Linked DNA regions of Homo sapiens: all the other regions are reported to be linked to region 1. Evidence: microRNA targets listed by miRTarBase, many of them from high-throughput screens and not tested one by one. Region 1 holds a microRNA gene; each other region holds the end of a gene's coding sequence.
The links. Region 1 holds the annotated microRNA hsa-miR-3674 (AUUGUAGAACCUAAGAUUGGCC, at 1,997-2,018, opposite strand). A microRNA usually pairs through its seed, bases 2 to 8, with sites in the 3' UTR of a target mRNA and lowers its output. Matches are read on the target gene's strand: a 7mer-m8 pairs with bases 2 to 8, a 7mer-A1 pairs with bases 2 to 7 and ends in A, and an 8mer does both.

Region 1 (5,331 bases):
CTCAGGAGGTCCTGACCACATGTGCCCAGGGTGGTCGGGGCACAGCTTGGTTTTATACATTTTAGGGAGACGTGAGACATCAATCAGTAGGTGTAAGATGCACATTGGTTTGGTCTGGAAAGATGGGACAACTCAAAGTGGGGGCTTCCAGGTCACAGGCAGATAAGAGACAAACAGTTGCATTCTTTTGAGTCTGGGATTAGCCCTTCTTTCACCAAATACACAATTTACATGTGAAAGGGGGGTAGAGGAACAGTCACTCTTGCCTTAGTCTGGCTTAGTGAATCTGCATTTTTTTCTTATTTTTTAGAGACAGGGCCTGGCTACATGGCCCAGGATGGTCTCAAACTCCTGGACTCAAGCAATCCTCCTGCCTCAGTTTCCTAAAGTGCTGGTCTTACAGGTGTGAACAACTATGCCCAGCCTGCATCTGCAGTTTTAAGTAAAATGGGAGGCGGGATTCCCTGATGCAGTTCCCAGCTTGATTCTTCCCTTTGGCTTAGTGACTTGGGGTCTCGAGATTTATCTTCCTTTCACAAGAGCCTGTGGTTCCACCGTAAGGACTGGAGTGGCCGATGCAGGGGGAGGAGTTTTGGGTGTGGCCACAGAGGCAGCTCCCAGCAAAGGCTGGCCACTGCATCCCCCTTCCTCACTCTGACTCCAGTCTTTCTGGCCATGAAACTTGACCTCTGTCATTTCAGGGGTTTCTTGTGGCCCCTCCACCCAGGCTAGCCCAGCTGAGCCCTCGAGGCTCCTCCTGCACCCTAGGCCTTGTTCCTATCACTTCCAGAGCCTGTCTGGTCAGTCCGAAGGTCTCTGTGTTAATGTTAATGCCATCGGCTGTTCCTGACCCCAAAGGGAGAGGATACAATGAGGCGTATCAGACCCTCCCCTTCCCGTCCGGCCTGACTTGTTTTTCAGGTTTGTTTGGAATCCTCTTGGCCAAGAGTAGGGGTCCATTCAGTTGGATGGGGGGCTTTTGGTTTTCGGAATTTTATTTTTGGTTTAAAACGGATGCTCACATGGGAGCCTGGGCCCAGAGCGGCCCAGGAAAGCACGTTCCAATGCTCCCTGCAGTGATCTAATGCGCTCAGAAGGTGGGAATGACTGTTCTAGTTCCCAGAGCCCCTTTTGCAGGGGACAGATGCTGGTGTAGAGTCCATGGTGCATTCAAGTCATGTTTCCTGCCCATTCCATCCGAGTGCAGTAGCCTCAGTATCTCATGCTACTAAAGTGATTGTCCAATCACTGTCACCGCCTGAAGGCTGGCTACAAAATTAAGAAATTAAAACTCCTGCCCACTGCACAGAGAAAACCAATTCACTGAAACCATGGTGTTGCAATAAAGAAAGTTTAACTGACACGAGGCCAGCCACGCCACGTGGGAGATGGAGTTATTCCTTTCATGCGCGTCCGTGTGAAGAGACCACCAAACAGGCTTTGTGTGAGCAAAATGGCTGTTTATTTCACCTGGGTGCAGGCGGGCTGAGTCCGAAAAGAGAGTCAGCGAAGGGAGATAAGGGTGGGACCGTTTTATAGGATTTGCGTAGGTAAAGGAAAATTACAGACAAAGGGGGTTTGTTCTCTGGCGGGCAGGAGTGGGGGTCGCAAGATGCTCAGTGGGGGAGCTTTTTGAGCCAGGATGAGCCAGGAAAAGGACTTTCACAAAGTAATGTCATCACTTAAGGCAAGGACCAGCCATTTACACTTCTTTTGTGGTGGAATGTCATCAGTTAAGGTGGGGCAGGGCATATTCACTTCTTTTGTGATTCTTCAGTTACTTCAGGCCATCTGGGCATATACGTGCAAGTCACAGGGGATGCGATGGCTTGGCTTGGGCTCAGAGGCCTGACCATTACTTAAATCAATTTCCCTGAAAATTTGGAGGCTACTGTATTTCAAGGGTAGTTTAGCAGGCCAGGGAGTCCGCTTCTGAGTGGGGCCACAGGATCAGTCGGACATCAGAAATGCAAAAACTTGAAAGGACATCTCAAACGGCCAATCTTAGGTTCTACAATAGTGATGTTTATCTGCAGAAGCTGCAAATCTTGTGACCTCCAGAGTAATGGCTGGTCGTCGTTTACATCTATATTTTAGCAGAATCCAGGCTCCTCTCATCCTCCTAACCTACTGGCCTTTCATTAGCTTTACACAGGCAGTTCAGTTCGGGAGAAGGGCTATTATCGTTTAAACTATAAATATCTTCCAAAATTAGTTTGGCCCAGGCCTAGGAGTGATGAAAGACAGTTTGGAGGTCAAAGGCAGGATGGGGGTTGGTTAGATCAGGTATCTTTCAACGTCATAGTTTTCTCACTGCTGTAATTTCTGAAAGGTGGTTTCATCACTTCCAAGAGGGTAGAAGACATGTCCTACTCTGGCGGCAATTCCTGCGGGTGGCTGAAGGACTGAATCTGCACAGAGCGGCTGTCAGAGGCCAGTGCGTTCTCTGCTCCTTGTGTTCCTATCACCCAACTCTCCTGTAAGCCAGGCAATAAGAGACGGGAGAAAAACATCCTCATGCAAAGCAGCCGGACCCAAAATGAAGAAATGAAAAGATCAGTGGATCGTTAAGACCCGAAGTCAAATTTTTAACATGCCCCTGACTTTGTGGTTTTAAACTTGCCTGTTTGAGACATGTAAATACTCACTGATTTATAAAAACACCAGTCATCAGGCGTGCCAGTTTGATTCCAGAGAAAACAGTAGAGAGTGCCTTATCGGGAAGAACAAATGGCTGCCCTTATCTAGACGCTTTCACTTACTGCATGGTTCAGCACACGGCATTTTCATGATATGCAGAAACCATCTTCATAAAAAGTAATTTTCCACTTGCCCAATTAAATAACTGTCAAAGCGTATTTCCGAGGAAATTACACTGCATTGTTCTTAACTTTGCTTAGTTGTTAAAAAAAAGTTGACATTTTATTGTGAAATAAAACATATGCAGAAGAATTCACAAATCACACATTTACTAAATGATTATAAAGCAAATAGCTATGTAACCAGATCACAAGCAGAGCCCTGCCAGCACCCCAGAACCCCCACGGATCCCATCCTAACCACAGCCCCATTCCCTCATTGGGAAATGTGTTTGGTTTTATTTGCAAGCCAACCCATAACCTCACCTCATGTTCCAAGAAAGTCCCACAGTGATATGAGGCCAATCTGTTCAGCTATTTTTATAGGGAATTCTTTACCGCCTAAATCCAAAATACTTCCAAAATACTTCCCACTTCTGGGAGCCTGGAACTCACTCCCACGCTCTTGGCCTCATCCAGGGAGGAGCTTTCTCGCAAACCTGTCGCTCCAGGTCCTAAGAAACCAGATTTTATTAAAAGATTGGGTTTAGGACAATTAGGTAACTGATTAGTCTATCACAGTTGTCTGTGACAAGAACATAAATATTAGAGTTGAGACGTCAATTTTGTGAATAAAACCAAGCAGAAACCCTAACAAAGGCAAGAAGGGGTTTGTTTAGATCAGATGCAAGGGCTTCTGGTCCAACAGGCAGACAGAGCCCTCATGTCCATCCATTTCCTGCTGAAACCTGGCTAAAAATATTTAAGTGTTGAAAGTAGAGAAAGAAGATAGAAGGCATGGCCGGGTGTAGTGGCTCACACCTGTAATCCCAGCTCTTTGGGAGGCCGAGACAAAAGGATTGTTCAAGGCCAGGAATTCAAGGCCAGCCTGGGCAACATGGTGAGACCCTGTCTCCATTTAGAAGAAAAAGAAGAAGAAGAAGAAGAAGAAGAAGAAGAGGAAGAGGAAGAGGAAGAGGAAGAGGAAGAAGAAGAAGAAGAAGAACAAGAATTGGAGGAGGAGGAGGAGGAGGGGGAGGAGAAGGAGGGGGAGGAGGAGGAGGGGGACGGGGAGGGGGAGGGGGAGGGGGGAGGGGGAGGAGGAGGAGAAGAAGGAGGAGGAGGAGAAGAAGAAGGAGGAGGAGGAGGAGAAGAAGAAGGAGGAGCAGGAGGAGGAATACAATGGTCCAGTGCCAAGACAGTGAAAGGCAGAGGGCCATGGCAAAGTCTGAGGGCTGGAGGCAGATGGACAGATGATGGACGAATGGGCACCGGTGAGGCCAACCAGAGGAGGCTACCGGAGCTACAGGGAGAGCCTTTCAGGCATCTCTGAAAGGGGACATCAGGCGAGGCTGAAAGCAGGAGGCACAGGATCACCAGGTCCTGCTCCACACCCAGGAGGGCAGGTGGCAGCCCCAGCCCAGCTCGGAGGGCCCAGGAGGAATCGGCCAGAAGACACTGTCATGGAGATCCTGAGGCAGCAATGGGAAGCAGGAGGAGTGAAAGAACAGTGGCCTTTGCCTACTTGGATCCAAGAGTTGTGGCAGTCGAATGACAGATCCTTCCGCTCCGCACCCCAGGGGACAGCATGACAGATCCTTCCGCTCCGCACCCCAGGGGACAGAATGACAGATCCTTCCGCCTCACACCCCAGGGGACAGCATGACAGATCCTCTCGCCGCACACCCCAGGGGACAGCATGACAGATCCTCTCGCCGCACACCCCAGGGGACAGCATGACAGATCCTCTCGCCGCACACCCCAGGGGACAGCATGACAGATCCTCTCGCCCCGCACCCCAGGGGACAGCATGACAGATCCTTCCGCCCCGCACCCCAGGGGACAGCATGACAGATCCTTCCGCCCCGCACCCCAGGGGACAGCATGACAGATCCTCTCGCCGCACACCCCAGGGGACAGCATGACAGATCCTCTCGCCCCGCACCCCAGGGGACAGCATGACAGATCCTTCCGCCCCGCACCCCAGGGGACAGCATGACAGATCCTCTCGCCGCACACCCCAGGGGACAGCATGACAGATCCTCTCGCCGCACACCCCAGGGGACAGCATGACAGATCCTCTCGCCGCACACCCCAGGGGACAGCATCACAGATCCTTCCGCTCCGCACCCCAGGGGACAGCATGACAGATCCTTCCGCCCCGCACCCCAGGGACCCCAGAATTCCTTTCAGGGAAACACACCCATGAGAAAAATCTGCGTGATTCAAGAGTTCCTCAGTATGAGACCCACGCGCCTCCCTGGTTATCCCCGGTCCCACAGGCAAACCTCCTTATGCCACAGACACACACACACACACACACACGCACACCCGGGGTTCCACATCCTTTCTCAGTGCCTCATGCTGAGAAATAAATAGTCGAAGACCACCAGACACAAGGAAGCCTTCGACATGGAGAAAGAGGCAAAACCAAATTGTGTGGTCAGAGGAGACAGTGAATGGGGCAGAAGAAAACTTCAACAGAGAAAAGCGATTGTTGAAATGCTCCGGGGTGTCTGTCTCCCACCAGTGG
Region 2 (5,331 bases), not on the chromosome of region 1:
ACAGACAGACAGATAGATAACCCACTATGCTCCACAAAGGATATGGCGTGGCCAAACGGCTGCTTGAGATCTGCTCTAAACAATGACCTCAGTGTCATTCTCATCATTTTCGTCCTCTTCCCTTGCCTCCCCCACACTGGAGTACTTCCTCTGTAGATCTTCACAGCCCTGGTCGTTTCCTTGCTGCATGACTGCAAAAGCATCCTTCCAGCACCTCTTCCTTCTCTTCTGAAACTCCCTCAATAGTGCAGTCGGGGATTCTGTCCCCATATCAAAGCAGATCAAGATCAAGTTCATTTCAGTGACAGCTTCACTCCTTCCCTACAGCCTTTCCCAGGCCCACTCTCAGCTCTTCCTTCCACGCCATTTGCCTGGGTAGCTGCCCTGCCTTCAAAGTCACTTCAGAAGTTGACGTCTCCCCAAGATATTGCATTTCCAAACATGCAACTTCTTCTGGGTGCCTAATTCATTTATGTCTTTTGAACAAATTTTTTTCTTTTTGAGACACAGTCTTGCTCTGTCGCCCAGGTTGGAGTACAGTGGTGCAATCTCAGCTCACTGCAACCTCCACCCCCCGGGTTCAAGCAATTATCGTGCCTCAGCTGGGACTACAGGCATGCGCCACCACACCCAGCTAGTTTTTGTATTTTTTTGTAGAGACGGGGTTTTGCCATGTTGCCTGGGCTGGTTTTAAGCTCTTGATCTCAAGTGATCCACCTGCCTCAGCCTCCCAAAATGCTGGGATTACAGGCGTGAGCCACCGCGCCTGATCTCTTCGAATGAATTTTATTGACACTTAAACCATGTTATTTATCGGTATCTTCCATCTTCTATACCCACTCGTGCTATCTTAGATTCTAAAATCTCAGAAGGCAAGGCTCATGTCTGCTGGGTTATTTGGTGCCAGAGACACCAGAAAGTCGGGAGCAGAAAGATGCTTAATAAATGCAATCGGAAAATTGGTGAAGGAAGTGAAATTAAAGCAAAATGGGAGTGAGGAAACTGAGTCACACCGAGCTTTCGGTTTTGCTCATTACCCATGTGTGAACCCATTCACCGCAGTAGTGCAGCGTTTCACATCACTCATCCTAGGGCGTCCACATAGACAGCATGCTACATTTTCACAGTGCTTTATGCTCCCTCCTCACAGGACATCTGCACACATGATCACATCTGATTCTCACAACTACGGTGCCTGGGAGGTGGCGGGGGAGGTCTGTTCTTGTTTGGCTTATGGGGAGAATGAAGTTCAGAGAAGGAACCAGACATGGTCAGTGAGTGACAAAGTAGTCTCTGAAAAAAAAAAAAACAACATTTCTCCAAACATTCTGACTCAAATTTACAGTTTGTGTTACCACTAGAACTTTTAAAATAGGAAAAAAGAATAGACATAAAATTCAACTGTTCATTGTAGAGTGCTTCCATAAACGGACTCCAAAGCCACACGCTGTCAACGCAAGGACCCTTCCTTTCAGTGGATGACGTGAACTTAATGTCTGAAGACCGCTAGGGTACGGTGCTGCTCACACAGCTAGTTTTTTCTGAGTTTGGTGACTGGCAAAACTGTTGTGGCAGGCGTCGAGAGGAAGCAAGTACAAACTGTGTGTGCTTTATGACCACCAGCAGAGGGCTGGTGATCCGGGGGCCTGCTCACACCACACCATAACCACCGGCTGTTTATTATACATCATCTTTGGTCTTGACATCTGTTTAAAGGTGTATTGTTTCTAAGAATAAAAATACAGTTAAAATCCCTTTATGGTAGTTTGAAAGACATCAAAATTGCTTTTACGGTCAGCCCAATTTGAAACAGAACCCTCTTTCTGCAATGCTCAAAGGAGGTTACCATTTTTAGCACACTCTATGTGCAAGCCTGTATGGCCCTGAGCGGAACTGGGTGAGAAGGGGCCATTTATCCCGTTTGCTGTCACACGATTTGAATTCATTACAAGGTGTCCATAATAAAATTCTGCTTGGATATCTGAAATTCTTAATAACATATTCAGGAAACCTGGTATTTTTGAGTGACATACAAAGATAATCGTTCAATTTGGGAGGAGTCGGGTATTAAACCAAGACCAAGAGAAATTTGGTATTAAACCAAAACCAAGACATCAAGCCCAGAAAGGGGCATTCTCTCCAATGCTCCTTGGAGCCTCTGAGGATCGCCTGATAAGATGCTGCTGGTCCTTTGTTGAACGTCCTTGAGAGACTTACTCTCCTGCACTCCTTCTCTTTCAGAGGTGCCCAGATGAAAACTGGCTACATCTTACCTTCCCAGAACCAACTTCCCTCATATTGTAAGACTCTAAATCTGTACAACAGGCTTCATTAATGAAGGGCTAAAACATGGTTTTGAAATCCAGTGATTACACTTTGGAAACCTGTTTTAGCTGTTTCAGGGGTCTTAAAACTTGACACAGATACACAGGTTTTGATCAGTCAGAGCCCCAAATTCTATAGCCCCTTATCTGTTATTTAATGAAAAGTACAGTCATGCACACATCAGGATGTTTTGGTCAATGACGGTCTACATATTGATGGTAGTCCCATAAGATTATAAAATTGTATTTTTACCATACCTTTTCTATGTTTAGCTATGTTTAGATACACAAATACTTACCATTGTGTTCAGTACAGTAACATGCTGTACAGGTTTGTAGCCTAAGAGGAATAGGCCATGCCACACAGCCCAGGTGTGTAGTAGGCTATACCATGTAGGTTGTGTAAGTACAATCTAGGATGTTGGCACAGCAACAAAACAGCCTAATGACACATTTCTCAGAATGCATCCCCATCATTAAGCGATGCATGACTGTCTTCGCTGATCTAATAAAAACAGGTTAATAGTGAAAATCTCTTAGCTAAGCCTGCTTTTCTTCTGAGTTTCACTCAGGTACCAGAAAACAGAACAGCCCTTGCCACTGTTTTCTTTACCATTATTTGGAAAGTGGGGGAAATGTTTACATCAGGAGTACATCTTAAGCGAGATGATCCCCTCTTAGCCCAAAGAGCATAAGACAATTTTAATAGCCACTCGACAGAGTAACAGCACAATAAAATCAGAAATGAGAAGCAACTCTCTCCTTTCCCTTGGGGTCTCAAAGCTCTTTTACATTTCTTGATTCATTACAGAGAGGCTGAACTGAACTCAATTTCATTTCCAGGCTCTGAACACAGGGAATGTGACTGGTAGGGATGTATGTATAACAATTTCGTGGTGCTGGGAATTATTAAATAACTTCTGCTTACAGAAGATTTCTCATTCAGACATAATTTGTGAACAAATCAACAGCAAAGTGGAAGAAAGGATCAGTTAGGACCTCTTGAAAGCCGCATTCTACAGGATCGGCCTTAGCGATCGGTGCTGAACTGGGACATGACCAGGAGTTGTGTGTGCCCAATTAAGAAACAGCAAATACAATGAAGAATGTAGATCTAAACTTTGATCTGTATTTTGGATAATCAAATAAATATAAAGCTTTTTGCCCCACTTTGGGAGGGATTTTTTTTTTCTAGAACAAAATGAAACCTTCAACATATTCTTCCACTGAAAAAGCCAAAGTTCCATTTCAGACATGAAGGTGAAGGGCCCTTGGAGCTGTAGCACCAGAAGAAGGAGGAAGAATGCGGGTGATGGCTTTGTTTGGAGTCATCAGGCTCTACAACCTATCATTTGGTTTCTCACTAGTAGCTTTTTAAAATTCCCAAACAGTCTTAGTATTCTTGTTGTTAATGTTACTATTAAAATAAGTTCCTATGGAGTAAAAGAGAAAAATTAAGCTGTTAATAAAATGTCTTCAAACCTCTTCTCAGAAAACAAAGCAGCAGGTTCATCGTACACGTACCAGTCTCAATCCCACAGAAACGCTTGGTTCCTTTCATCCCTATGCTGTCTATACAGTTTAATCTCTACCTTTAAAAAAGAGACGAATGCAGTCATTTTGTTAGCTTAGGTTTGTGTTTTGTTTTTGTGAAGTGCTGCTGGCTTTTGGCCAAAATACATATATTTCAACTGAACCCAAGTGTTCAGACAATTGCCAGCCCAGTGAAAGGCTCATGAGCTGTCACACGACGTATGGCATCTTCTAAATTGCAACTTGCTCCCTCCCTTGGGCAGGCTGCCCGAGAGTTGCTCCTTCCTCTTCCAAACACCCACTCAGTTGATTTCCTTTTGGTCTTGCTTCCACAGGAAGCGGATACTTGGCAAATCTGCGAGGCGAGGCCGATCAGCTGTGGAAGTTCTGCACGGTGCTCTGTTTCTGGGAGAGCCGGAGGAGCTCCTCGCGGATTGCTTTGATGAGAGAGGCCGAGGAGTGGCCAGGCTGGAGGTCTTCCGTGGAGCTGGTGGGGTAACCCAGCCCAGGGCCCTGCAGTCCCCGGTGGGGGAGGTTCCCGGAAGGAGCTGAGGGCTCCCTGCCTGAAGTCCTTGGCACCTGAAATAGCGGTGAAGAAGAATACTCTTGATGTCCGAGCATGTGTGTCTGAAAAACATGGCAAACGTCACTGTACTTCCTACGAAGAATAAGCCGAAACATCAAATGCAAACTGGCTTTAGGAAGGTTCCCAGGACTGCCCACGTCCATCCACCAACTCAGCCCTCTAACAGGGCCCTGCTGCCTATGCTGCAGGTGAGGCGTGAAGACACCAGGGGGCTGGGGAGAACAGAAGGGAGGGAGGCTGGAGTGCCCCATGATGTGAAAGGTCGGGTGATATCTGAGAGCTGAAGGAGGTTAAGCGGATCCATGCCAGGCTGACAAGGGGAACAGGTGCCTCTGCCCTGGACTGGAGCCTACGCAACCATCTTCTGCTTTATCTAGCTGCTGTCTGTCTCCTGTCTCTGCGTGAGTGTGTGTCTACTGAGGGCTCTGTAGAGCCTTGTCTTTAAAAACTTATCTGCACTAAAGCATAAAATAGTTTTGCTGATATTTGCCGCATAGAGATTAATTTGGCAGGAGTTTCACAAGAATTATTACACTTTTCAGATTTTTTTTTCATGTTTATTTCTCTCCCAGTGGAAATAAATGTCTCTTTGCATTTATATGTAAGAGTACTTAAATCTGCGTACTAAAAACCATGTTAGGGCTAAGTTATTTGTGAGCCAAACATGACATTCCAGCTCTAGGTTCTTTCTACGTTTCACTTCTCCAAATAGTGACCGAGCAGTGTTCCAAAGTGGATGTGACAGGAAAACCTTAACACACCATGCCAGGCACGGTGTCTCATACTTGTAACCCCAATCCTTTGGGAGGCCAAGGAGAGAGGATTGCTTGAGGCCAGGAGTTCAAGACCAGCCTGGCCAACATAGTGAGACCTTGCCTCCATTTTTTC
Region 3 (5,331 bases), not on the chromosome of region 1:
TTTTAGAAAAGGGCTGGGAAGGAATGATTCAGGAGATTATAAAAAGGAAAAAGAGAACTGAGCAATGTCTTCATGAATGAATGGGAGAGAGATGGACTGAAGAATGGAACAGGGTACCCCTTTTTCAGTCTAAGGGAGACTTGAAGGTATTAGAAAACAGAGCAAGAGGCAGAGTGAATTAGACTGGAAGAAATTTTCAGAAATTAAAGGTATTTGAGGGAGTCTCTAGAGAGGTAAGCAAGAAAAACCTAAGCCTGGGGAGAGAGATTGGTTTCATGAAGAGTAAAGAAATACTTTTTAGGTTCAGATCTGCTGTCCTGGCAGCCACCACCCACTTAGGATTTGTAAATCAAGAGCACATTATGTGTTACATGCATAGACGGATTGCACTGACTGGATTTTTTTTGTGTGTGTATTCTTCTATTTCCCAGGAGAAAGACAGCTCTCATAGTGGAAGGAGTGTGGTCATTTAGTCACCAAGCACAGCACAACTTCTGTGGCTACTTCTCGGCTCCTGTGTGTCATCAGCATCACCTAGGTTTCCAGCTGACTTGGGAACTGCAAGTCTGAGTCTAACAGTTTTTGGCTTAGATTCTGAGAATCAAATAGAAGAATTTTAAATACAAGAGTTTGAGATTGGGTATAGTGGCTCACACCTGTAATCACAGCACTTTGGGAGGCTAAGAATCACTTGAGACTAGGAGTTCAAGATCAGCCTGGGAAACATAGTGAGACCCCGTCTCTACAAAAAATATAAAAATTAGTTAGGTGTGGTGGCATGCACTTGTAGTCCCAGCTACTCAAGAGGCTGAGGCAGAAGGATCCCTTGAGCCCAGGAGTGCAAGGCTGCAATGAGCCAGGATCCCATGATCACACATCTGTATTCCAGCCTGGGCAATAGAGCAAGTCCCCATTACTAAAAAACCCAAAAGGCCAAAAAACAAAAAAGTTAGAGTTCGAGGAATTACCAACTGTAGTTTTAGCCTTGGTTCATGCTCTCTTGCATATTTATATAATCTCTGACTTGTAATGGACCCTGACTGGAATGTGATCCCTCAGGAACTTAGTAGCCTGAGTCTTTCAGTAGACTACACTGCCCAGAACCCTGGCCATTCTCAAAATGAGAACTTGGGAATGTTTAAGAAGAAATCAAACATGTTTCAGGAAAAGGAAATCTATGGAGTATTATAGGGACATTCCCATGGGAATGTATCTTCCTCCATGGCATGTCTTGAGGGTCCTTTCTTGTTAGGAGTTTATCCTGCCAGCCCATAAATGGACTATTTATTGTAAGTGTAGAAAATCACAGAGAAGCAGTTTTGCACCAGCCTTATTCCTGTGCCTTGTTTTCCTCTTGCTCTTTTTTTACCTGTATATCTAATTTATATTTTCATATATATTGTGTATTGATTGAAGTCACTTTAAATCCTTCTTGGGAATGACACAGTATATAAATAAGGAAGAAAGAAAACATGCCAAGCTGAGCATGCTGCTCCAAATAAATATCTGCTTTCCTACTTTGGTGCATTTGATTGGATTAAGCCACCTTCACCACTAAAGTTCAGAGAAGACCCCGACCAACCTAGGGAGTTCTGGAGCTACCATTCTCCTGGCACTACTCAGCCTTTCAGAGTTGAGATTTCCCAAGCAGAAGCATCCAGGCAGGTCTTGCCACTCAGAGGGCCCCAGGAAGAAAGGACTGTATTTTCACTATAATAGGCTCTACCACCCCCTCCCATTTTTCGAAGCCCCTTTGGAGGCTTCATGAATCCATCTGTGCTTGACGGAGAGATCCACACTGAGCAGATTGGAAGGAGGTGGCCTGAGTGAAGGAGAGTATGTGTGTATGTTCTTTAACAGTATATCCTTACGTGCTCACTTTAGATCCCATTTATTGACACATCCATTTTCCCCCAGTCTCATTAATTTAATTACATGTGGAGAAAATAGGTTAAATTTCTGCATTAGGTAGACTTCTCTGGGATTTTTTGATTATTCATATTTAATTGGATCTAAATTAGCGAAAATATATATATATTTACAGATAATGTAGACGTAACATTCAGTAGGTGAGAGACTTCTGGTCTGGACAAGATGGCATTGTCCCATTTCCCCTGCTATGCCCTGCTAAGCACAACTTAATAAATTTTGGAAATGGTACAAGAGAAAACCAAAGGATTCTAAAGGGTGTTAAGAAGAAAGCAGGTTGGTTTGAAAACCCAGGACCAGAAGAACAGCACAGAGGCAGGGCATTTTATATCCCCCTATCAGAAGGTATTTCCTGACTTTCCATCTAGCAGCAGAAGGTAGCCCAGTAGCTCATTCTTCCCCCTGAACCTAATGGAGTCCCTCTGGCAACCTCAGGCAAGGGGACTGATTGAGAGTCCTACAAAAAAATAAGTGGACTGATTGAGAGGCCTACAAAAAAAATAAGTGACCAGGGGAAGCACCCTTATTCCCTGCTGGGTCAGAAACTCCTCTTTTCCAAGAAAAGATACTGAGGTGGACAGGAGGAGCTAGTAAGAGAAACCTAGGAAAAATAGGTGGTCCAGTTGGGGAAGCCTTTTTGCACAGGCCTAAGACTGTCCTCTCCTGCCCAGAGATACTAGGATTGGCTGGTAGAACCAGGAAAAGGGACCTGTCACAGACGACATCTCTGAAGCCAGCAACCTGGTCACAGAAGCCACGATGTGGAAGCAAGACTCTCCTCCCAGGCCCAGAGAAATCTGGGCAGCTAGAGGCATCTGCAGGATTTATCATAGCCCACCCTCACCAAGAGACACTTGGCAACCCAGCCAGGGAAATTCCTCCTGCCCTTTCAGGCAGCAGTAACAGAGACCAGTGGGAGCCCTACATAAACCAAGCAACTAAAATAACACTGCAAGGGCTCTGAAAATTAAGCTGCCATTAGAATTACAGCCCACAAAAGTAGGCTAAAACTGTATGCTAAACCTAAACAGAGTGATTCCTTGCAAAACAAAATATTTAAATAGAAATCAGTCTCCTAACATAATAGGCAAAATGTTCAGAGTGCAAATCAAGAAACAATAAAATCACAACTTGAGTGAAAAAGGAAATCAATGGATTCCAGCATTGAGATGAACCAGATATTGGAAATTATCTGATAAGAATTTTAAAGCAGACATCATAAAAATGCTACAACAATCAATTACAAATTCTCTTGAAACATGAAAAAACAGAAAAACCTCAGAAAAATAGAAATAGAAGTTTTATCAAAAGGAAACATGAAAATTATAGAACTGAAAAATACAAAAACTGAAAACTCACTGGATAGGCTTAATGGTACAGTAGAGATGATGGGGGATAAAAATCTGTGAACTTGAGGACAGAACAATAGAATTTACCCAATCTGAACAATAGAGAGAAAATAAACCGGAAAAAATAAACAGACCTCAGGGACCTATGGAACAATAACAAAATATCCAGCATTCATATTATCGGAGTAACAGAAAGTAAAGGAGAAAAAGGGTAGACATGAATATTTGAAAAAATAAGGCTGAAAACATTCCAAATTAGATAGAAGACACTAACTTAGAGATTCAAGAAGCCGGATGAATCCCACAGAAGAAAAAAAAAATCCATGCCCAGGCACATTATAATTTTTTGAAAACTAAAAACAAAGTCCTGGAAGCAGCAAGTGAGAAACAGTGCATTACTTGTAGGGGAACACCAATTTGAATGGATTTCTTATCTGAAACCATAAATAAGGAAGTGGCCAAATATTTTTTAAGGGATGAAAGAAAAGAATCATCTCCTATAATTCTAGATCTAGCAAAATTATCTTTTGAAAACAAACAAAACATTCTTAGAAATGAAGGGATTATAAAAACATTAACAGATGAATGAAAACTAAAAGATTTTGTGACTAGCCAATCTACCCATAAAAGACTAGCTAAAGGAAGTTCTTCAAATTATAAAAGAAGGAAACTTAGAACATCAGGAAGGAAGAAGAAACAATAGAGCAGAAATACTGGTTCATACAATAGACAATTTTTTCCTTATGGGTTTTAGAGAATATATTTTATGTTTGAAACAAAAATTGTAACACCATCTGATACTTAAAACAATGATATTTAAAGGTGGGGAAGCCAAAGAGACCTGAATGGAAGTGAGGTTTCCACACTTCATTTGAAGTGGTGAATATTGATACCAGTACATTGTTATAAGTAGCATGTGTAACACCCAGAGCAACCACTATGAAAACTATACAAAGTGACAAACTCAGAAGTATTACAAATAAATCAAGATGGAATCTAAAACATGTTTAAATAAGCTGCAGAAAGGCAAGAAAGATAAATAAGAACCAGAGGAGACAAATAGAAAATAAATAACAAAATAACAGACTAAAGTGCTAAAATATCAGTAAACACTGGACCTTAAATGTAAATGGTCTAAATATACCAATCAAAAGACAAACATTGGTAGACTGAGTTAAAAACCATCCATAATCCTATGTGCTGCATATAAGAAACTCATTTCAAGTTCAAACACAGGTGAGTTGAAAGTAAAAAAGGGTGGAAAAAGATATATCACATACACATTAATACTTTTTTAAAAAAACAGGAGTGGCAATAGTAGTGTTTGATAAAGTAGACTGCAAAGCAAAGAAAATTGCCAGAGACAAAGGGGATATTATATAATGATAAGAGGATCAATTAGGAAGACGCATTATACTAAATGTGTACAAACTAAACCACAGAGCCTTAAATACCTGAAGCAGCAATTGATAAAGCTGAAATGAGAAATAGCAGAATCTGTAATTATGGTTGGGAACTTCAACATCATTCTCCCCTTTCCCCAGTAACTAATAGAACTATGAAGTAGAAAAATCACCAGGATATGGAAAATCTGAGCAACACAATCAATCAACAGGGTCTAATTAACATTCATAAGACATACCACCTAACAATACATTTTTCTCAATTGCCCATGCACTAGTCATCAAATAGAAAAAGACATAAAATATATAGTAAAACAAACTTGACAAATTTAAAAGAATTGAAATCATGTGCTCTGGCCATAATGGAATTAAACTGAAAATCTCTAACAAAGACAACAGGAAACTCTTGAAACACTTGAAAATTAAATAACACACTTCTAAATAATCTATGGGTCAAACAGGGAGTCTCAAAGGAAATTAAAAGGATAAATGAAAACATATCAAAGTATGTGGGATGCAGCTAAAGCAGTACTAAGAAGAAAATTCATAGCACTATATACTTACATTAAAAATGAAGAAAGGGGCACTTGGTCTCTCATGTTGCCCACTTGGCCCTCTTCCAAATGTACTTCCTTTCATTCCTTCTCTAA
Region 4 (5,331 bases), not on the chromosome of region 1:
CTAAAAATGACACTACTAGTTGACCTTTCCATAAGACTCAACAAACACAAAGTGTAACTCCTGCCCTCAAAGCCTTCATGGTCTAGGCTGAGGAAAAAGCCTCCTAAGTAGATCGTTAAAACACGAACTCAAGAAGTGCGACAATTCAGGGATCACTGAGAAGTGAGACTTCCCAACCATCTGGGGAGTCGGGGGCAGTTAGAGTGTGGAGGGCACAGCAACTGGGTTTTGAAGAATGAAGAGCAACTAATCTGAATCAGGAAGGCAAAGGCCTTTCAGAGCCACATAGAAAGGGGTGACAGCGCGGGGAGTCAGGAGTGTGTATGGGGCTGTGTGGGACGGGTCCCAGAGGCAAACGCCAACGGCCGAGTGACCCCAGTAACTACCACAGGAAGGGCTTGGTTCGCAAAAAAGACTTGCGCAAACAAGGGACAGCCGAGCCGCCCAGGGAAGTGCGGCTCCCGAGAAGCCTCCGCGCAAGGTCCGGGCCTGCTGCCCAAGGTCCGCGTAAGCGCCAACGCCCGACCGTTCCCAGGCCTCCCAGGCTCCGGCGCCCGGTGCAGCGGCGGACGACCCACCCATCATGGCTGCGCGTCGCAAAAGTGGCGGCGCGCGCCCGGCTGCCCCGCAACGACTCACCCGTGGTGTGCAGGAAGCGCAGCCCCTCGGTCTCCAGGGCCGGCCGCGCGGACAGAGACTCCTCTTGGCGTTCCATGACCGCCGCCGCCGCCGCCGCCCAGCCCTGCCGCCGCGCCTCCAGCCGGGCGCTTCCGGTGCGCTCCTACGCACACGTGGCGCGCCCGGACGCGGTCGTGGTCCCGGCCAATCGCAGGCCGACCCCGCCCCGTCGCTGGGCCAAACGCAGGGGGGCGTGGCCGAGGGGCGTGGCGGGGGAGAAATCCCGGCTACGCTCGCCGGGGCCGGGACAGCGCGTGTGGGAACGTTCTGTGCTATCTCTTGGCTTGAGTCGGGGGTGGAGGACGGACCTCGTTCACGGATTTCTTACCGAATTTCTACTTTCTTTTTTTTTTCTAATTGGACACTGAAGCCAAGGAAGTCAGTGGTCGCCCGGAAGCAGGATTTGCACCCACATCCTTGCCCGGGGCACATTGGACAACAGGGCTCAGTTGGTTGACGACTCCCAGCATTTGAGGGTTGCAGCCAACGTCCACCCCAAGTGAAGACACGAAATGTGAGCAGCCTCCTGCTCCTGCTGCTGGTGATACCTTTCAGGCCAAGAAAGTCCCCACCGATCCTCAAGGTTCTTTCTCCAAAATCAAAGCCTTTTAGGAAAGAACGATCATAGTAACTGCTCTAACCTGTGTTGAATTATACTGTATCACCACAAGACACGATCACAGAGTTACTTATAATAGTGTCCTGGCTGTGTTCCTCTGCCTGCAACGCCGTCCCGCACCCTCTTCCACCACTCAAACGTCACCACCTTTATGGTGACCATAACCATCCTATTTGAAATGTGACCTTGGGTTTTTCTGGAGCATTTGAAGTGCACATACCTAGCTGTGTTTCAAAAGAAGGGTTGGGAATTGGGAATAGAACTGAAAAAATAATGAATAGGTGACAACATCCGAGTGCTGCGTCACCACTGTCGCCAGGAGCAGTGTGGGGAAGGCAAACCATGACATGAAGCGTGAACGCAATCAGTGTTTCTTCAATGCAGGTTTGCCAAGAAGTTCCTCAAGGGGGACAGCTGCAGGGATTTGAGCACTGACCTCATCAAGCTTTCCCAGCAGTGTGTTCAGAAAGCAATAAAGGGGACCTGGCATTCATGAGCCATAGCAAAGAGAAGCCTGAAAGCTCTTCTTCCCTGTTGGCCACCTTGAAAATGGACTCCTCAGATGAACCGAGGACTCTGGATGTTATCCATAAAGGCTGTGAAGATAGCTTATCGATTTAATGAGGAATTTTAGGAGGGAGAATTTCCTTCTTCATGTTTGCCTTTCCGTTGTAAAAGGTGATGAACCATCACCACTCTTTGCTTTGCTACAGATGATTTCTCACTTGCTCTGGCATCTTGCAGGAACATTTATGTGCTAAATTGAATGACTTCTATGGAATTAGTTGCAATTCTCAGTCCCAGATTAGCTTTAAATCCGCCTTACATCTAAATACTGATAAACTAGACAGGATGAGCAGGGTTGCCTCAACTATTTTGTTAGGCTGTGAAGGACATTAGGTATACCGTACTGGGGTCATAGTTCATGGAAAAAAATGGTTAGGGCCTCACTTTTCTCTCAGGAAACTCATACCAAAACAGTTTCAATCAATGCTTGGGAGCAGTTTTATTTTTATACAGTAACTTAACAGGATGGTTTAACACAAGAGTTCCCCATCTTGACAAGGTGTCAGATGAAGACTTGAGAGCTTCAAGAATGTTGCAGTGGGCCAGGAGTGGTGGCTCTTGCCTGTAATCCTATTGCACTTTAGGAGGCTGAGGCAGGAGGATCACTTGAGGCCAGGAGTTCAAGACCAGCCTGGGCAACACAGCAAGATCCCATCTCTACAAAAAAATTTGGCCAGGCACGGTGGCTCACGCCTGTAATCCCAGCACTTTGGGAGGCCGAGGTGCATGGATCACCTGAGGTCAGGAGTTCAAGACCAGCCTGGCTAACATGGTGAAACCCTGTCTCTACTAAAAATACAAAAATTAGCCAGGTGTGATGGCGGGCGCCTGTAATCCCAGCTACTAGGGAGGCTGAGGCAGGAGAATCGCTTGAACCTGGGAGGCAGAGGTTGCAGTGAGCTAAGATTGTACCACTGCACTCCACAGCCTGGATGACAGAGCAAGACTGTCTAAAAAAGAAAGAAAAGAAAAGAAAAAAAACCCACAAAACTTAGTTATGGAAGAAGATCCTAAATTGCAAAGATTTGTTGTTGCCGGCTTTCAATCCATGTCAATGAATTAAAGTCAACGTGCACAGTATAAAAATGCCAAAATGTTGCATCTGATTAAATGAAGGGAACGTTTGCTTTATTTGCCTTGTTTAGCTACCTTATCCTGTAATGTCTGTAATCACAAAGATGGAATAAATTGTAACATTTTAGGTTCTATCATTAAAAAAAGGCAACAATCCTTTTCACTCAGGACTTTGCGATATAAAATGGAAACCAGTATTAACTCATGAAAATAATGCACATTCTAAGCATATAGAAAACCAAAGTATCCTTGTAAACTATTGTGAACTATTGTATACATATATACATATAATGCATATATTCCACTAAAATCTAATAGATATTATTTGAATGCATGGATGATGGCTTTTCAGTTCCTAGCACATTGATCTTATGGTCCTATTGATAGAAGTTACTCATCCTAGCCAGGAATTTGTTACCTTTGTCCCTTTAATCAGGTGTTATAACCTCACCTGGCTTGGCTTGTCTAGAACTGGAAAGGTATTTCAACAAACACTTTGCTCAATGTAATTGCTCAGGTATTATTTGCAAAAAGAGGACAAAGGTGGACAGTAACCAGGGCTGCCACCTATCACTGACTGTTGTAGGCTAAATGATTGGCCGAGGCTGAAAGAGTGGCCCTAATTTGTCACTCCTTCTCACAGCCATATCCTTGCTATGGCAAGGTCAAAGGAGTATATTTCCCCATCATCCTTTGACTTTGTACTTGGCGAGGTGGCTTGCTTTGGTTAATATCAAGTGGGCAGAAATAAGTGTGTCAGTTTTGAGTGTAGGTAGGCCTTAAGAAGCTCCTAGTGTTTATTTCTTGTGCCTTTGCCGGGTGAGCTGGCTTATCTGAGACCTGTAAAGAAACCAAGCCACCCCAGTTAATCCAGACCTACAGTGATAAGCAGAGCCAACTACATAATAGTGTTGTTGATTAAAACCCCTGAGTTTGGCCAGGCGTGGTGGCTCACGCCTGTAATCCCAGCACTTTGGGCGGCCGAGGCGGGAGGATCATGAGGTCAGGAGATTGACACCATCCTGGCTAACACAGTGAAACCCCATCTCTACTAAAAATACAAAAAATTAGCCGGGCGTGATGGCGGACGCCTGTAGTCCCAGCTACTTGGGAGGCTGAGGCAGGAGAATGCTGTGAACCCAGGAGGCGGAGCTTGCAGTGAGCCGAGATCGCGCCACTGCACTCCAGCCTGGGGGACAGAGCAAGACTCCGTCTCAAAAAAAAAACAACAAACAAAACCCTGAGTTTTCGGGTGGATTGTTATACAGCATTATTGCAGCAAGAGCTAACTGATAAAGTGCCAAGCTTTTCACAAAAGTATATGCAACAAGATGGGATTAAGACTGTCGTGGCTAAGGGGGATCAGAGAGATGGCAATGAAACAGTAGTGTTCTTCAAATATGAGTAACTTACGCCCCTTTCAACAAATGTTCTTGTAGACTCTCCATATGACCTTTATGTTAACTATGTACATATATAAAACTAAAGGCTGGGTATGGTGGCTCAGGCCTGTACTCCCTTGGGAGGCCAAGGCGGGAGGATCACTTGAAGCCAGAGTTGGAGACCAGCCTGGGGGCGGGGGAGAAAAAAACAAAAAACATAGCCAGGTTTGGTGGGACACACCAATCAATTTCAAAAATGGAATCATTTCAGTTGTCCTATCAGAAGCCGGAGCGACAGGTAAGTCTGCACTAACAGAAGGGCTATGTGGGAGTGGAAAAGGCGGCCTTCCTGGCATGTGTCATGACACTGCAGGAGCCAGACGCTAATCCAGCCCAGGAAGCCTACCGAGAAAACGCTGCCCTCCTGCATTTCCAATTTCAACGTGTCCTTAGACCTCACTGCAAATGCACCATGATGACACACAACTTGGTAGCATAGTGAGTGGAGTTTATTTTTATAATTTGTAGAAAATTGACATTTAGATTTCAAAACTTATATTACAAAATTATCAGCAGCAGTCTTAAGCATTTCAACAATGCTGATAGATTCCACTTTGCTAACACAAACAAGGCTATTATACCATGTTCGAAAAGCAAGACTTGTTCCAAGAGGGCCTATTATTATACATCTGCCTCACTGCTCAGGACCCGTTTGTGACTGTGTCTTCTTCCATCTCTTCTTCACCATCATCAGTGGGCCCTAAAGAAAACCACCAAAGCAAAAGTAGTATCAATTTTAGAGAATCCATTCCCTTAGCATGCAAGTGTTTGTTCTGTGGCCACTGTTTGTTACACACTGAAGTAGGTACAAAAAGATCAAAAGCAGCACCTGCCTTTGAGGAGCTTATCGTCCAGGGACGGTCTAGTCTGTCTTTGGCAGGTACTGGAAGGGATGCTCAATTTCAAAGGAAAAGGGTCACAAAGATTTCAAAATTGTTGCCTCCCATTGTA

Region 2: the mRNA of KIAA1549 is a reported target of hsa-miR-3674. Seed matches in the 3' UTR shown: 7mer-A1 at 2,657-2,663, 7mer-m8 at 1,409-1,415 and 8mer at 651-658.
Region 3: the mRNA of ILDR1 is a reported target of hsa-miR-3674. Seed matches in the 3' UTR shown: 8mer at 742-749.
Region 4: miRTarBase lists SNRPA1 as a target of hsa-miR-3674. Seed matches in the 3' UTR shown: 8mer at 4,842-4,849.

Annotation. Positions count from the first base shown.
Region 1 is chr8:1,797,820-1,803,150 of GRCh38, reverse strand. MIR3674 (microRNA 3674) reads right to left here and starts at 2,026; the gene lies at 1,959-2,026. RefSeq lists enhancers at 80-740, 1,401-2,062, 1,896-3,095.
Region 2 is chr7:138,833,677-138,839,007 of GRCh38, forward strand. It overlaps KIAA1549, which reads right to left. Exons shown (of 20, transcript NM_001164665.2): 20 at 1-4,484. The coding sequence ends at 4,230. Among named protein-coding and RNA genes, the nearest start is that of ATP6V0A4, 38 kb to the left of the region's middle.
Region 3 is chr3:121,983,509-121,988,839 of GRCh38, reverse strand. ILDR1 (immunoglobulin like domain containing receptor 1) reads left to right here. Exons shown (of 8, transcript NM_001199799.2): 8 at 432-1,517. The coding sequence ends at 473. It overlaps LOC101927010 (a long non-coding RNA gene), which reads right to left and starts at 661. Exons shown (of 2, transcript XR_241555.5): 1 at 1-661.
Region 4 is chr15:101,276,703-101,282,033 of GRCh38, forward strand. SNRPA1 (small nuclear ribonucleoprotein polypeptide A') reads right to left here. Exons shown (of 9, transcript NM_003090.4): 9 at 4,808-5,080. The coding sequence ends at 5,022. It overlaps SELENOS (selenoprotein S), which reads right to left and starts at 783. Exons shown (of 6, transcript NM_018445.6): 1 at 640-783. The coding sequence starts at 715. RefSeq lists a silencer at 659-988.